Linked DNA regions of Homo sapiens: all the other regions are reported to be linked to region 3. The links are microRNA targets in miRTarBase. Many come from high-throughput screens and were not tested one by one. Region 3 holds a microRNA gene; each other region holds the end of a gene's coding sequence.

Region 1 (4,000 bases), not on the chromosome of region 3:
GTGCATCTTCTTTGGCAAGGACGGCACCAAGAACGTGAAGGAGGAGACTGTGTGCCTGACGGTCAGCCCGGAGGAACCGCCGCCTCCGGGCCAGCTCTTCTTTCTCCAGAACCGCGGGCCGGACGGGCCCCCGGAGCCACCCCCGGCCGACTCCCCGGCCACTGCGCCCGGCCCAGACGATGCCGAGGGCACGGCGGACACCTCCCTGTGCCGCTTGTACCGGCACGTGTCGCACGACTTCCTAGAGATCCGCTTCAAGATTCAGCGGCTGCTGGAGCCGCGACAGTACATGCTGCTGCTGCCCGAGCACGTGCTGGTCAAGATCTTCAGCTTCCTGCCCACGCGCGCGCTGGCCGCCCTCAAGTGCACCTGCCACCACTTCAAGGGCATCATCGAGGCGTTTGGCGTGCGGGCCACAGACTCGCGCTGGAGCCGAGACCCGCTCTACCGCGATGATCCGTGCAAACAGTGCCGCAAGAGATACGAGAAGGGCGACGTGTCGCTCTGCCGCTGGCACCCCAAGCCCTACCACCATGACCTGCCTTACGGACGTTCCTACTGGATGTGCTGCCGTCGAGCCGACCGCGAGACTCCCGGCTGCCGCCTGGGCCTCCACGATAACAACTGGGTGCTGCCCTGCAATGGGCCAGGCGGGGGCCGGGCCGGCCGGGAGGAGGGGAGGTGAAGCCGGGGGAGGGGAGGGGAGAGCCCACCACGCCCACCCCTCCCCTCTCCCCCCGGGAGCCGAGGGTCCGGACTGGGCCGCCTGCCCATTCCCCTACTCCAGGCAGCATTGATCCCTCACCGGAACTGAGCTGGGGTTCAGCAGGGGTGACCCAGGAAAGCCCTCTGCTTGATCCTGTTGATTTTCTACTCTTCAGAACCAGGGCCGTGGACCCTCTGAGAAGGGTGTTTTTTTTTTTTTTATCAGCATCTCACTTTCTTCTCCATTCAGCCCCAACCCCCTCCCTGCCATGCTTTCCACCCCAAGGACCCACCAGCAGGGAGCAGACGGCAGCTAATTTTGGTACCACTTAAGGGTCCCCCCATTCTGGCCCCCATCCTCTCCCTCACCCCAATTCTTTCTCGCTGGAGCTGTTATTTCCCAAGAAGCCGCATCGCCCAAGGTTGGCACCTCTCCTAACCTGCCACACGACAGCTCTCACCTCTCTAGGAATTGGGGGCTGTCAGGTCACAGGTGGGATCTGGCATTTTTTTATGACAGTCCATTTCTAGATGGTTTGCCTATTAAAGAAGTGGGGGGGAAATACTGTTTTCTCCTTAACCTCAAGCTACCAGTCTCTCCTCTTCCGCGTAGAGGAAGAGGGGGGCAGACAAAAAAAAAGCTGAAGTATAAAAACCCTCCTCCTCCCGTTATTATTTAAGCTACTGCCATCAACCCCACCCCCATAAAGCTGTGAAGCCCTTTGCCTCGCTTTTGACAGCGTGGGGGGGCCCCGTGGGCAGGGACTTCGGATTTGCATTTCTGGGTTGTTTTTCCTTCCACTCTGGGGTCTCGTTCAGGCATTGGGGTCTCCTCACCCCAGCCACATGTTTCTTTAAGAATCCTTTGGTCAACCAGGACCTTGATTTTTCAGGCATTTTGGTCTGGGGTATTTTTGTTTGTTCTCTCTGTTTTTTGTTTTCTTTTTTTTCTTTCCATCGTGGTTCTGGAAGCTTCTAGCGTGTGGCATCTGACCAATTTTGAATTGGTCCTTTCTATAAAATCAATATTTATAAGGCTGTGTGCAGACTGGTTTGTGTGTTGTGAAGGGAGGGTTTGGGAAGAGAGGGGAGTTGTAGGCCTGTGTATGGGGGATGGAAAAAGTGGAAAGAGAAGGGATCCCTAGCCAAGTCCCTTAGCCTGAGATTATTTTTTACTCTTCTCATCTGTGTCAATTTGGATTTGAAAAATCTCAAAATAGTAGTAGCTTGAACAAGATTTTTTTTTTTTTTTTTTTCCCTTAGAGACAGGGTCTCTCTCTGTCACCCAGGCTGGAGTGCAGTGGTATGATCACAGCTCACTGCAGCAACCTCCTGGGCTCAAGGAAACCTCCCACCTCAACCTGCCAAGCAGCTGGGTTTTCTACAGGTGTACGCCACATACCCAGCTAATTTTTAAATTTTTTTTTTTTTTTTTTTTGAGTCGGAGTCTCACTCTGTCGCCCAGGCTGGAGTGCAGTGGCGGGATCTCGGCTCACTGCAAGCTCTGCCTCCCGGGTTCACGCCATTCTCCTGCCTCAGCCTCCCAAGTAGCTGGGACTACAGGCGCCCGCCACTACGCCCGGCTAATTTTTTGTATTTTTAGTAGAGACGGGGTTTCACCGTTTTAGCCGGGATGGTCTCGATCTCCTGACCTCGTGATCCGCCCGCCTCGGCCTCCCAAAGTGCTGGGATTGCAGGAGTGAGCCACCATGCCCAGCCAAGATTATATTGCTTTTACTATCACCATTTTGCTGGAAGGGAGGCCCCCTTCCTCCCAGAAGCACTACACTATGCTTCTATATACATCTCACCCGTCAGACTTAGCCACAGAAGGGCTGCATGAGTCTAGGAAATGCAGTCTTTTAGCTGGGTGCAATATGCCCAACAAAACACTCTTTACTAAAAATCCCTGTAATTAAAGTTTTTAAATAGCCACTTAATTTTTTATTTATTTATTTGAGACAGTCTCAATCTGTCACCCAGGCTGGGGTGCAGTGGTGTGATCTCGGCTCACTGCAACCTCTGCCTCCCGGGCTCAAATGATTCTCCTGCCTCAGCCTCCTGAGTAGCTGGGATTACAGGTACTCGCCACCACAGCTGGCTAATTTTTGTATTTTAGTAGAGACGGGGTTTCACCACGTTGTCTAGGCTGCTGTCGAACTCGTGGCCTCCAGTAATCCACCCATCTCAGTTTCCCAAAGTGCTGGGATTACAGGGATGAGCCACCACGCCCAGCTGGATATCTTAAATTTTCAGTTTAAAGGAAGGGAAAAATGGATATTGAGAGGCAGCTAAGTCTCTGACATTCTTCTCCGGAAATCAGAATTTCCAGAGGACTAGGATACATTATGGTAGTGATTCAATGCTTAGATTTTAGAATCAATAAGACCTGGGTTTGAATCTTGTGGGGAGGGTGAGTTAGATTATTCGGACCTTCCTGTTGAGAACAACTGAAAAAAAAATGCCCTTCAAAGGATCAAATAGCCAATAAAATACAGTAAAGACCCACCACGCCAAATAGTTAAGAGAATGATATGTGGGAGCCGGGCGCGGTGGCTCACTCCTGTAATCCCAAGCACTTTGGGAGGCCAAGGCGGGCGGTTCGAGATCATCCTGGCTAACACAGTGAAACCCCATCTCTACTAAAAATACAAAAAATCAGCCGGGTGTAGTGGTGGGTACCTGTAGTCCCAGCTACTCGGGAGGCTGAGGCAGGGGAATGGCGTGAACCCGGGGAGCGGAGCTTACAGTGAGCCGAGATTGCGCCACTGCACTCCAGCCTGGGAGACAGAGCAAGAATCCGCCTCAAAAAAAAAAAAAAAAAAAAAAGAATGATATGTGGGGCTCTGAAGCCACATTTGCTCTCAGGGTGTTTGCTGATGTGGACACACTGGGGTTTCCTACTTGGCAGCCTTACTGGAAGGAGCAGGCAAAAGTCAAGTCCAAAGCCAGCCCACAGTGAGCAACTGCAGGAACTGGGATTCCAGAGAGCTACAAGCTCAGGTAAGGATGACCCGGAAGACTGAAGAGGTATTCAAGAGGCAGAAATCAAATGAAAAAAAAAGAAAGATTCTGATAATCTGTGGTCACAGACTGGCCCTCGGCACAGGTTCGCAGCCAGGTTCACGTCCTGTGTGATACAGGGTACTTCTAGCTGACATGTCTGGCAGAAACAAACACAAGTCCACCTGTGGAAGGAACTGTCATCTAGAAGCCCCACAAATATTTTTGTTTGTTTGTTTTGAGATGCAGTTTCGCTCTTGTTGCCCAGGCTGGAGCGCAGTGGCGCGATCTC
Region 2 (4,000 bases), not on the chromosome of region 3:
CTAGAGGGAACAGCATGAGGGATACATGAAAATAAATAACAACTACAATGCATAGTACATCAGGTGTAGGGCAGGATCTGGAAGAGAAATGTAATCAGGATCAGATTGAAAAAGGTTGTAGTTCCATGCTTGTGTTTGGACTTTGTACTTATTGGTGGCATCATAGAGGGCTTTTTTTGGCAATAAGAAGTTTGGAGGCTGAGCATGGTAGCTTACGCCTATAAACCTAGCACTTTGGGAGGCCGAGGCAGGAGGATTGCTTGAGGCCAAGAGTTCAAGATCAACTTGGCCAACATAGCGAGACCCTATCTTTTAAAGTACTTTTTTTAGGAATTTTTATTTTTCAAAAAAAAATTTGAAGCCAATACATCTGCCAGGACCCCTGCAATGATGATGGGGAGTTACTCAAGCAGTGAAAGTAGGAATAGAGAGAACAGACAAGATATGGTAGAATTGACTGAATATGGAAAACTAAACCAGAGAAGGGTCAAAACATGATTCACCCTCCAATACCCAACAATTTATGGGGATCTTTTAGAGCCAGCCATTTAGTGCCCCCTGGTGGACAGATGAGACCATCACAGCATTAACAGCAACAAGTCACTTAGGCTGTTTCATTCTTCCAGTAAAAAGTTTATATTGAACACTATCCAGACCCTCACTAATCAGCCTCTGCAGAAGCCACAGAGATCACGGCACTATTTTAGGTGAATCTAGTTAGGAGAAAAGATAGACCTCAAATGCCTAACCCATAACAGAAAGTAGAATAAATGACCAAATCCTAAAATATGTGGTGGATAACACTGACATGAGATTTTAGAAAATACTGCAATTTGAGAGGTGGGTTAAGGCTTCAGATATAACAGAGTTTTTTGTTTTGTTTGTTTTGAGACAGAGTCTCGCTCTGTCACCCAGGCTGGAAGTGCAGTGGCTGAGTCTCAGCTCACCTCAATCTCCACCTCCTATGTTCAAACGATTCTCCTGCCTTAGCCTCCAGAGTAGCTGGGACTACAGGTGCATGCCACCACACCTGGCTAATTTTTGTATTTTTAGTAGAGACGGGATTTCACCATGTTGGCCAGGCTGGTCTCAAACTCCTGACCTCAAGTGATCCGCCCACCTCTGCCTCCCAAAGTGCTGAGACTGCAGGTGTGAGCCACTGCGCCCGGCCACAGAGCCATTTCTTTAACATATGATTTTTGAAGAGCATCCAGGTCAGAGGCAATTGTGAACAAAACATCCTGAGAAGTAAATGAAAAAATAGTAAGGTTGAAATACTAAGAAATTCTATAGGTAATGAAGTCTGAAGGTTCAACCTGGCTAGTGATGTAGTGTTCAAGTTTTAAGACCAATCTGACACTGGAATAAAAAATGGAGAAATTAGGATGCCCAAGACAAAATTTAGATATGAAAACAGTGAAAGCCAGTTGTGAAGTCCTAATAAACTAATCCTGGCCAGGAGCTGTGGCTCACGCCTATAGGAAGGCCAAGCCAGGAGGACTGCTTGAGCTCAGGAGTTTGGGACAGCCTGGGCAACACAGCAAAACTGTCTCTACAAAAAATTAGCCAAGTGTGAAGGCAGGCACCTATAGTCACAGCTATGTAGGACACTGAGGTGGGAGGATCACTTGAGCCCGGGAGGTTGAGGCTGCAGTGAGCCACTGCACTCCAGCCTGGGTGACAAAGCAAGACCATCTCAAAAAAATAAATGATCCAATTAATATAAGTTAGCTGGACACATTAAATGGTTACTGCATGGTTGGAAAAACAAGCTTTCCGATTGTCTCTTAGCTAAGTGTATTTTGTCTTCTGCATTTCTTGGGCCCACCTTGAGGTAGAAAAGGTAGCTGGGTGCAGTGGTTCACACTTGTAATCCCAATACTTTGGGAGGCTAAGATGGGAAGATTGCTTGGTCAACATAGCGAGACCCCAAAGACAAGGTTACCCAGACCCCAATCCAAAGCTCTAGGGCTGCAGGCATGGATAGTTCATTTGCACGTAAGCTGTATCAGGAGCACACAAAAGCGCCATTAGGTCAGTAATTCGGCTATTCCTTTTTTTATTTTGAGACAGTTTCACTCTGTCACCCAGGCTGGAGTGCAGTGGTGTGAACTTGGCTCACTGCAAGCTCCACCTCCTGGGTTCACGCCATTCTCCTGGCTCAGCCTCCCGAGTAGCTGGGACCACAGGCACCCGCCACCTCGTCAGGCTAATTTTCTGTATTTTTAGTAGAGGTGGGGTTTCGCCATGTTAGCCAAGATGGTCTTGATCTCCTGACCTCGTGATCTGCCCACCTCAGCCTCCCAAAGTCCTGGGATTGTAGCAGTGAGCCACCATGCCCGGCCCAATTCAGCTATTCTTTTACTTTCCCAGGCTTATTTCTCTCTCAAATGCCAATCAGGGTTACATGTTATCCAGAAAACCTATCATTCTCAACTAAACACATAATGTTCCTGCTAGTTGTAATGTAATTCCTACTCCTTAATTCACAAGTGGCAACCTCCCTTCCACAACACCAGTACTTCTACCACAAGGCAGAATTAATAGCCATCTGCGATCTAAGAGAGAATAGGAAGATAAATAATCCTTACACCCAAAAGGCCAAACAATTTTTATTTTCAAAAACAACTTTATTCATGACACATATTAAAAAAAAATTCCCACCCCTGGAAATGAGCTAAAAAAATAAACAAAATCCACCTCCCACCTCCCTGTTCCCACTTCCTCCCATTCCCTCCAAATAAAAGGGAAAAAAGGCAAAGGAAAAAAAAAAAAAACAAAAAAACAAAACAACTGAAAAACAAAAACACCCCTAAACCCCCCAAAACAAGGTAGTGCATTTCCCCAGGGGGAAGGGGAATTTACACTGGAGCCGCTGGGAGCGGAACGGAGATCTTCCGGCTACAGAAACCTGCAAAGAAAGACACTCAAAACAGAAAAAGAAACACAAAAGGAAACAAAATAGATCACCAGGCAATCTGGAGGGGCAGGGAGCCGGAGAAGAGGGGTGGGGTGGGTGGTAGACCTGGCTGGACAGGAGCAGGCAGGAGGGGACTGTGAAAGGCGAGGAGAAGACGGAGGGAAGGTAACAAGCAGAACAGTTTGGTGTCCTTCCAGAGCCCTGGGTAAAAAAAAAAACCTCCTACCACCCACGCCCACCTACCCTTGAGCAGCCCCCAAGGGGGTGAAGTGGGGCAGGGAAACATGGGCAGCAGCTTGCGCAGTTGAGACGTGTCCATGGCGAATCCCCAGAGTGAATAAGCAGCCCCCTGCCCCACTCCCTGGGCCTTCCCCTACTCCCCAAAGCAGGTCCCTCCTCAGCAGTTAGTTATGGGATTCTCCCCCCTTCCACAGTATATCTTTTTTTTAAAAAATATTTTTTTTCCATCAAGGTCATCTTCTGTTTTTCTTTTTTTTTTTTTTAATTCTTTTTTTTTTCCTTCTTTCCTCTTTTTTTCCTCTCTCTCCTCCTAATACACACTTTTTTTAGTAAGGGGAATACCATGATGTCGCTCTAGCCCGGCCCCTGGAAGAAAGAAGGAGAGTTAGGTGTTAACGTGATCACTAGATAGTTCAGTACAAGCCCCTCCCCGTAGGCCCCTGCCCCAGTTACTGTGAAGGGAAGGGGGGAAAAGAAGTGTTCAAGTGTCCTAAAACTGACCCCATGATCCCAGAAATAGTAACGCACCTGGAGAACTGGGGCAGGGGGAGGGGGGCTTAACAGAAAACTGCCAAACAGTGGCGAAAAAGAAGCGCATCTGAGTGAGAGACAGGGGCAAGGAAAAGGACCCCCTTTTTATCCAGTTTTCAGTCCTCCACAGCTCTTAAACCCTAGGCCATCACAAATAGATCCTCCCTAACTCCTGGGGATAGGCAGGTAGAGCTTATGAAAAGCCAAGGTTTATATGCCTAACCCGTCTATTTAAATGTAGAGACAGAAGTGAAGCAAGGCAAAAACCTGGGCACCACACTAGGCCCAGTGAGAAGTTAACCTTGCAAG
Region 3 (4,000 bases):
ACAAAAATCAGTCAAGAGCTACCTGTAGCTTAAATTAGTGAGTTTATTGTATGACATGTATTATAGTTGGAAAAGAAGGGAAATGAGAGGAATAGGAAAGATAAAGTAATTCAGGCTTAGGCTAGCTTCAAAGTGTGTGTTTTTTGTTTTGTCGGTTTTTTGCTGTTTTTATCTAAGTTTTTAGTGGTGAGATACCTTCATGACAAGAGACTGTCACTTTTATTTTTGCCAAGTCAGAAACATAATTTGAACGATAACAGCTGTATTATTCCTAATCTTAAGTGTGATTCTTGGAAACTATTTGTTTCATTGTTCTGAGTCCCTCCCTGCTCCCTTTCTTGCCCAAATAAAATTCAGTTTTCTGATCCAGCTTGGTTTTATTTGGAACCAAACGAAACAATGGCAACATTTTTTAAAAATCTATGAAATATATTATTTTTTTTTTTTTTTTTTTTTTTTTTTTTTGAGACGGAGTCTCGCTCTGTCGCCCAGGCTGGAGTGCAGTGGCGGGATCTCGGCTCACTGCAAGCTCCGCCTCCCGGGTTCACGCCATTCTCCTGCCTCAGCCTCCGAAGTAGCTGGGACTACAGGCGCCCGCCACTACTCCCGGCTAATTTTTTGTATTTTTAGTAGAGACGGGGTTTCACCGTTTTAGCCGGGATGGTCTCGATCTCCTGACCTCGTGATCCGCCCGCCTCGGCCTCCCAAAGTGCTGGGATTACAGGCGTGAGCCACCGCGCCCGGCCTATTATTATTATTTTGAGATGGAGTCTTGCTCTGTCGCCCAGGCTGGAGTGCGATGGTGTGATCTTGACTCACTGCAGCCTCTGCCCCCCAGGTTCAAGTGATTCTCCTGCCTCAGCCTCCCGAGTAGCTGGGATTACAGGCGAGCACCACCACACCTGGCTAACTTTTGTGTTTTTAGTAGAAATAAGGTTTCACCAAGTTGGCTAGGCTGGTCTTGAACTCCTGACCTCAAGTGATCTGCCTGCCTCAGCCTCCCAAAGTGATGGGATTACAGGCCTGAGCCACTGCACCCGGCTCTACAAAATATTTTTTATGAATAAAGCCAGAATTTACTAAGAGTGAATATATCTGATTTTAAGTTTATAGTAGAGTTTAAAATGTAGGACCTATATTTTCAAGATAAGTTTGCAGATTGGATTTAGTAACCCGATCGTCTCTTCATGATTGTATGCCTTTTTCCAAGGGCTGTAAATAGGTATACCTTGGGCCTTGTCTGAGAAGCATAACCTTCTTGAACCTAAAGGACCCTTCAGACGAGAGCTTAGTAAAATAAGTTTAGAATGAGATTCTATTCTACCTTCATAACAGAGCATGTATCTTCTAGCAACACATTCTAATATCATTGTCAGAAATAATTTCTTATATCTAAGTATCTTTTTATTCTCTTTGTTGTTCCCTTCTAACTCAAATGGTGGAATAATCAATCTGCTTTCTTATTGGGGTACGTATTTTAAAATAAACTTTAATGAAGCTTGTCTGAGTTTATCTAGATCATTGGGAGGTGGTATTTTATGTCTTCCAAAGATCACACTCATTTTCCTATAGTGTACCAGGTGACTAGAAGCTTAAGAGCATCATAGCATCTGTCTTGATGATAGATTTTGGAAGAGTTCAGAAGACAATCTATTCTTTATCAGATTGAATTTTCAAGCTTTGATTCTTTTCTTGAAGTTACTTCTACATATTAATCAGTGAGGAAAATTTCTTAACAAAGCTTATTATGTAGCATGAAGTAGAAGATTCAAGATCTTGCCTGCCTTTCTCTGTGTTACCACAAGTGTGTGTTTATCTACAGTACTTGGCACACACACACACACAGTGTCTTATTGTGTGTTCTTTAGTTTTATTTAGGAAGCACTGGCATATTTAACTGTACTAGTGTCTACTGTGTATAGTAAATGAAACTTCTTTGGAGACTGAGTCTTTTAATTATACTCCTTGCTTTGAAGAGAAGGAGATAATTTTTCATTAAAATTAGAAAGTTAAACGGATATTAAGTTGATGCTGAATTGCAATGCCAGATTCTAGAGTCTATGTCAGCTCCATTTTCAGTCTAGCAGCCGTTAGTAAAAGACACTCGGAATCCATTTTCCCCCATCCAGACTATTAATATTAAATAAGACTGACAGCAAGGATTTAGTGATTAGAAATACTATGTACTTTGTTCCACTGCCTTTCAACAAGAATCAACATGTAAAGTTGAAACTTCCTGACCAGAATTTGGAAGACTATGATGTAATTCCCTGGGCCTTGATTCCAGAAGAAGGAGCTCTCTGAATATGGGTTTACTAGTTGGTGGTGAATTCATGAGTCGCCAACTATTAGGCCTTTATGTCCAGATATTATCCTAATTTATGGAGTAAGGTCCCTGAGTTCTCCTCTTTCCTTCCACAGGGCAAGCAGGAGGACTTCAAGACGACAGTTCTGGAGGGTATGGAGACGGCCAAGCATCAGGTGAGGGTGGCATTAGATGCTTGCCACTTAGTAGCAAGAGCCGCCAAGTAGGAATTGATGCTTGCAAGTGTTTTTGGCTGTGGTATCCACATTTTAGCCAGAAGCGCAGGTGAAATTTAACCCACAGGACATAATAGTATAGTAGGAGAGAGTGTAGTGAGAACAAAGGCAAGCAAAACCTTTTGAAGTCCTCAGGCCGATCTCAGCCCTCCACTCTTTGTGTTTTCGAGGAGATGGCGGGTACTTTTCTCCCCAGCAGCCTTTCTATTAATAGTAAACATGATATAGAACATAGACTTAGGAATCATGGGACCCTTAAAGAGAAATACAGCAGTATACACAGAGAGGAAAAGTCACAGGCTCAAAAGTCTAAAAGCAAAAACAAACGGGACTGAGAGGCATTCTAGGACTAGTCAGAGGAACTATGTGGGCAAGTGACATCTTTTTAAAAATGGTTGTTACAGGGTATTGGGTACCTTTTTTCAGTTAACATTACGTAGTTAATCATTCTTCAGTTTAAACATTTTGTTTCTCATGTGAAAAATGTCTTTTGAAAAGTCTGAAATACTTTTTTCTGTTCAGACCAAACAGTATGAGATTTTTACTTCTAGGAAAAAGTAAAGAATTTATAGGGGCCACCATCTGGAACAGTTAAAATTTATCCCAGCAATCCAAAATAACGTATCTGGATTTCATCCTTTGTCTCTTGAAGGATGTTTTTGTTCCAGTTGCTCAAAGCTGGTTTATAGATACGTTTTGATAGAATTGGAATAGGCACTACTTCACTTTTGGAGGTTGTCACTTTTCAACTGTCTTAAGTCTACTTTAAAATTATTTGTTTTGCAGTTTGCATATAACAGGTCCTGGGACTGTTTCTATTTCACTCTCTTGAACTAAAGGTAGTTCATTGTTAATACAGCAATTAGTAATAAGGGGATCCAGAATGTTAGGAGCAGACTTTTAAAAATGCTGTCCCAAGGATTGCAGGTTGATAATCAGTACATGGTTATCTTAGCAGAATTAAACCCTGTTCAGAGTCTAGATCTGTGGCATATAAACCTTGAAGAATGCTTTTCATCAAATGACGCACAATTAGATCTTCCATGGAACTGTTGAAGATCAGGGATGGCCTTTAGAGTTCTAATCTTGAAGAAAGAAGTTGAGTTTTCTTGTTTTTTGTTTCTGTTTTTTTTTTGTGTGTGACTATTTGCTCTTTTGCATTAAGTAAACAATATCATATATTGCTGAAAGTGAAAGCAGACTTTCATATAAAAGTGTGCTGCTGATTACTGTTAGTAGAACATGAATTTTAAGTGTTTCCAGGAATGATGGTGACTGTTGTAAAACCTTCAAGATCTCTCTTCCAATCTTTGTCACGTTCAGAAGCATGCATTTGTGAAATGATCAATCAGGGTTAGAAATGTGCTTGTAAGAGATCAACATTCTTCTCTTAATGAAGCCAGATGACCCTCATGGGTATCTTGGTGCCAGGATCATATCTTGACTTCTTAAAACCCAC
Region 4 (4,000 bases), not on the chromosome of region 3:
TGTTCTCTGTAATTCAACAGTTTTAACATTTTAGTTTTATTCTTCCAAAATAGGCAAAATCCCTTAAAACTGGGATCATTTTGATCTATTTTGGTTTTAAAAATATATTTCCCTTTAATTCAACTTTTTAAAAAAATGAGTAATATTTGCTGAGCAGTTGCTTCACAATTGAAAAGAGCAATGAAATATTGCTTTTTCAAAACAAACTTCAGGCATCATTTAAATGCCGAGAATTCCAACTCTTCAAGTCTTGAGAGCTTGCCTTAAAAATTTCCATAGTGGTATACAAAGGACTCCAGGGTGCTTTCCTGTGGCTTCAGGAAGGGAAGGGAAGACATTTGCCCTGGGTAGTCTGGGACAGTCCCTTGAAAAGTCTATTTTTGTTTCTCTCCCCACTTGGATTCCAAAAAGCTAGTGCTGGCTCCAGTGCCACCAGAATACTCCAGGCCGTTGGGTTTTCAAATGTGAGAGGTTGGGTGATTTCAAGAATCTATAGAGATTTAAAATGTGCAATGAAGCCACAATTTCTGTTCAGATCCTCTGAAATATGGGGTGCAAGACCCCAATTTTGTGTGGAATCCTTCTCATGATAAAAATATTATTCTGGATACTTAGGAGATCTGTGACCATCAGCATCTTTATAAGAAAGTGACCTACAAAAGCTACCCCAATTTTCAAATTTGAAAGTTCAGTGGGGAGAAAGTAGTATGGATAATAGTAATGGTTACCATAGTTAAGATTATCCAATTTTCATAATTTCTATAAAAACTTTCAATGTGTAATCCTTATTTGAAATAGTATCAAAGGAACTATAAAAGAATTTTGTTGTTAACGTAACTCCGCTCTCCAGAAAATCAATTAGTGCAAATCATTTGAAGCAAAAAATCAGAACCATTTCACTGAGCAAGTCTTCAGAGATTTTTTAAAAAGAATATACAAATGCAAATTTGTTGTGCAGTATATAAAAGGGTGGCACCCCTTTTCACACTTAAAATTTCAGGCATTTACAGCTCTGATTCCATTTATAGTTAACAAGAAAAATATAAAGTGTTACTTTTTTACTGCAAAAATAAGGATCATTAGCAATCTAGAATTCAAATACTTAAGAAGCCATATGTCAATATTATTAAACTAATTAATTAGCTGTCAAAACCAATGAAGATTATAATGATCTAGTGTCTGACACATTTGATCTAGGGCTGTGAGACCACTGGGAATTCTACATATTAGACGAGTAATTTGTTTGCACTCTGATACTTTCTTCTCATAAAAATCACTTGGGAACCTTGTTAAGAATGCAAATTCTGATTTAGTAGACCTAGAGTGGCATGAAATTCTGCATTTTTAACAAGATACCAGATAATGCCAATCCTACTTACTGGTCCTCAGACCACACAGCTAGCAAAGGTCTAGAGAGGTCTAAATGAGGTTCCATTACAGTGATAGAACATGAAAATCTGATCTCTCAGCTCTGTCAGCTAACATTTCCCCAAACTTATTCTACAATGTTTCCTAAGCACCTCAACTTGCTTAAAATGCCAATCTTAAAATGCCAAATTAGTTTTTAATAATACCAATACTATTAATAACTATGCACAGGGGAAATTCATTGTTAAAGAATGACAAAAAGACATCTGTAAATTCACAGTGATATTTTACAAATATTTTAAATTGTACACAGGGTTCCTATTAAGTTAATACAATATCAAGTTTCACTGCCCGATTGCCTTACAGTTCTTAACTACAATTTATGGCAATAGATCTTATTCCATTCTGTTACTGGAGCTAAAAGAAAATCAAATTCATTTATGTCAAAATCCACATTGTAAACAGGGCTAATGAATGAAAACGAGTTCATGCTTTTTGAAGAACTCGGTTTAAACTGGTAGCCAAAGCAGTTGCAGTTAAAACTATGTCCAGAGTATAAATGCTTTGGCAGCCTTCAAAGCATACAAATTTTTCATATATCTGAGCTCTGCATAAGCAGGAACAAGAGGAAAACACTAGCATGCTCTCTTGGTGACTACAGCAAGGGACTATGAAGAAGGAAACCGCTGTGCAGTCACAGTGAAAAAGAGCCAAGAACTGGACAGCTCCTTAGGTCTTCCTCAACGGTCAACTGACTCAGCCTCAGCCGTGCTTTCTCTCTCTCACTCTGAATGATGACTTAAGTACATTTGCTTTACAGGGGAACCGCAACCATAGCCAAAAGGACCACGGCTAGCAAACATCAAACTTTTATTTCCATCTAGAGGTCACATACAGATACATACAAGTTTGTTTCAACTTCTGCCATGTCGTCTTTTTCATTTTTACTTTTTAGTTGGGAGGTAACTAAATTGATTATTCTTTTGATATCATACTAAGATATTTAAAACAGGCCTGTTCACTAACAAGAAAGACATTTCTTTTTCTTCGTGTTTTAAATTTAAGAACACAAACATAAACAACTTTAGTTAATATATAAATGTCCTTTGTCCATATTTCACTACCTTTATTTTCTTTCATGACATTTTATAGATGAAAAATGCATTTGCAGACAAACAATTACATATTATACAGTGGTATCTTGAGAGCTATGTTGCAAGATTTACACTGATTTCCAGGAAGTCTTCCAATGACGTATGCTCTGAATTATAGGAGTCCAAACTAACTAGGATTTCCAAAGTCCAGCAGTAGGGTAAATCAGCTTTACAGCCTATTATACCTTAATAATTGAAAGGGATCTTCACATGCTAAATCCAGATAAAACACTTCAAAACAACACACCTACCAGCAATCTGATTTTTGATATAAAAATGTTTCAGAGATAACAACAGAAATGCCTCTAGCCATCCCCTGGAATCATATAATATTCTAGGCACTGGGTTACCAGGCATTTTCCAGGGCTTTGAGCAAATTGTTCTAATCATAAAGATGATCTGCTTACAAATATTTTCATCAGGTGCTTTTCATACACATCATTTTTGTGTTTCCACATGCCTGTTTTCAGATTGGCTTCCTGACCAGGAGCTAGAGAATTCCTGGAGTTGTGCCTCTGCCCCATTCTCTATAAAACAGTTCCCATACATGCAGACTCCCTTTGACTCTGAAGGCCAAACACACAGCCATCAAAATAGGAGCTATTAAAAAACCAAACCAAACCAAAACAAGAAAAACCACCTTACAACCTCACATGAGACATAACCAACTTGATTAGACAACCTGTCAAAATTTATTGTCACTGACAATCTTAGGGCAACAATAACAAATAAGAGGAGGGAAAAAAAAGACTCAAACCAAGGGGAAAAAATCTTAATCAAGAAATAACAAAACCATATTTCAACTTACTGCAACCTAGACAATCTTCCCTTCATAAAGTCAGGGGAGCCTTCAGAATTTAAGACATCAGGGCTCCTGTCAGGAATACGGATGAAAGACCCAGGGTACTTTCATAAAGAAGCAAAGTTGTATTTCCAGGTTCACTAGGTTATGGGAGAAAAATATGTTACTAATTAATCTGTGGACAGAGTAATGCTAATACTAGGAGGTCTCTGCTGACCTGATTGATGCTTCATTGGAAGTTCAGTTCTTTCTGAAACGTAAATAAGCTTTTCTTCTTGGAGACTACAAGCGGAAAACCTATTGGCATCTGTCCCAGCCCCACAACCAACAGCAGATGACGGGTTATGTGGGACTGTGACACCACTGACTTGTTCAAAGGATTTACTAAATACAGTCGCTGCGGTCTTAGCCAAACCATGGCTACTAGGCTTAGGTAGGGATTGGCTGGTTGTTAAAGTAAGTCTCTTCAAAGAGAGAAGCTCAAGATTCTCACTTTGGGCTCTCTGAGTTTGTTTTCGAGCAAAGTGATCTTTGCAAGATTCCCCTGTAGTTTCTTTTTCTTTTCCTCCAGTTTTGCTTCCTCCTGACCGTCTGTGGTTCTTTCCTATACTTGGCTTGTTACTACAATTGTGACTACTGTTTGATAAACCCGACTGGCTGGTACTAGACGCAGCCC

Evidence for each region. The annotated mature microRNA hsa-miR-3115 reads AUAUGGGUUUACUAGUUGGU and lies in region 3 at 2,305-2,324, shown strand. An mRNA with a match to its seed (bases 2 to 7 or 8) in the 3' UTR can be bound and repressed. Matches are read on the target gene's strand: a 7mer-m8 pairs with bases 2 to 8, a 7mer-A1 pairs with bases 2 to 7 and ends in A, and an 8mer does both.
Region 1: the mRNA of FBXO46 is a reported target of hsa-miR-3115. Seed matches in the 3' UTR shown: 7mer-A1 at 1,407-1,413.
Region 2: miRTarBase lists PABPN1 as a target of hsa-miR-3115. Seed matches in the 3' UTR shown: 7mer-A1 at 3,329-3,335.
Region 4: miRTarBase lists HYCC1 as a target of hsa-miR-3115. Seed matches in the 3' UTR shown: 7mer-A1 at 3,470-3,476.

The regions. Positions count from the first base shown.
Region 1 is chr19:45,708,369-45,712,368 of GRCh38, reverse strand. FBXO46 (F-box protein 46) reads left to right here. Exons shown (of 2, transcript NM_001080469.2): 2 at 1-1,740. The coding sequence ends at 685. Among named protein-coding and RNA genes, the nearest start is that of QPCTL, 18 kb to the right of the region's middle.
Region 2 is chr14:23,324,773-23,328,772 of GRCh38, reverse strand. It overlaps PABPN1 (poly(A) binding protein nuclear 1), which reads right to left. Exons shown (of 7, transcript NM_004643.4): 7 at 2,610-3,526. The coding sequence ends at 3,487. BCL2L2-PABPN1 (BCL2L2-PABPN1 readthrough) reads right to left here. Exons shown (of 8, transcript NM_001387346.1): 8 at 2,610-4,000. Among named protein-coding and RNA genes, the nearest start is that of PABPN1, 5.3 kb to the right of the region's middle. RefSeq lists a silencer at 491-580.
Region 3 is chr1:23,042,006-23,046,005 of GRCh38, forward strand. It overlaps MIR3115 (microRNA 3115), which reads left to right and starts at 2,300; the gene lies at 2,300-2,367. KDM1A (lysine demethylase 1A) reads left to right here. Exons shown (of 21, transcript NM_001009999.3): 3 at 2,422-2,481.
Region 4 is chr7:22,942,095-22,946,094 of GRCh38, forward strand. HYCC1 (hyccin PI4KA lipid kinase complex subunit 1) reads right to left here. Exons shown (of 11, transcript NM_032581.4): 11 at 1-4,000. The coding sequence ends at 3,495. Among named protein-coding and RNA genes, the nearest start is that of HYCC1, 70 kb to the right of the region's middle.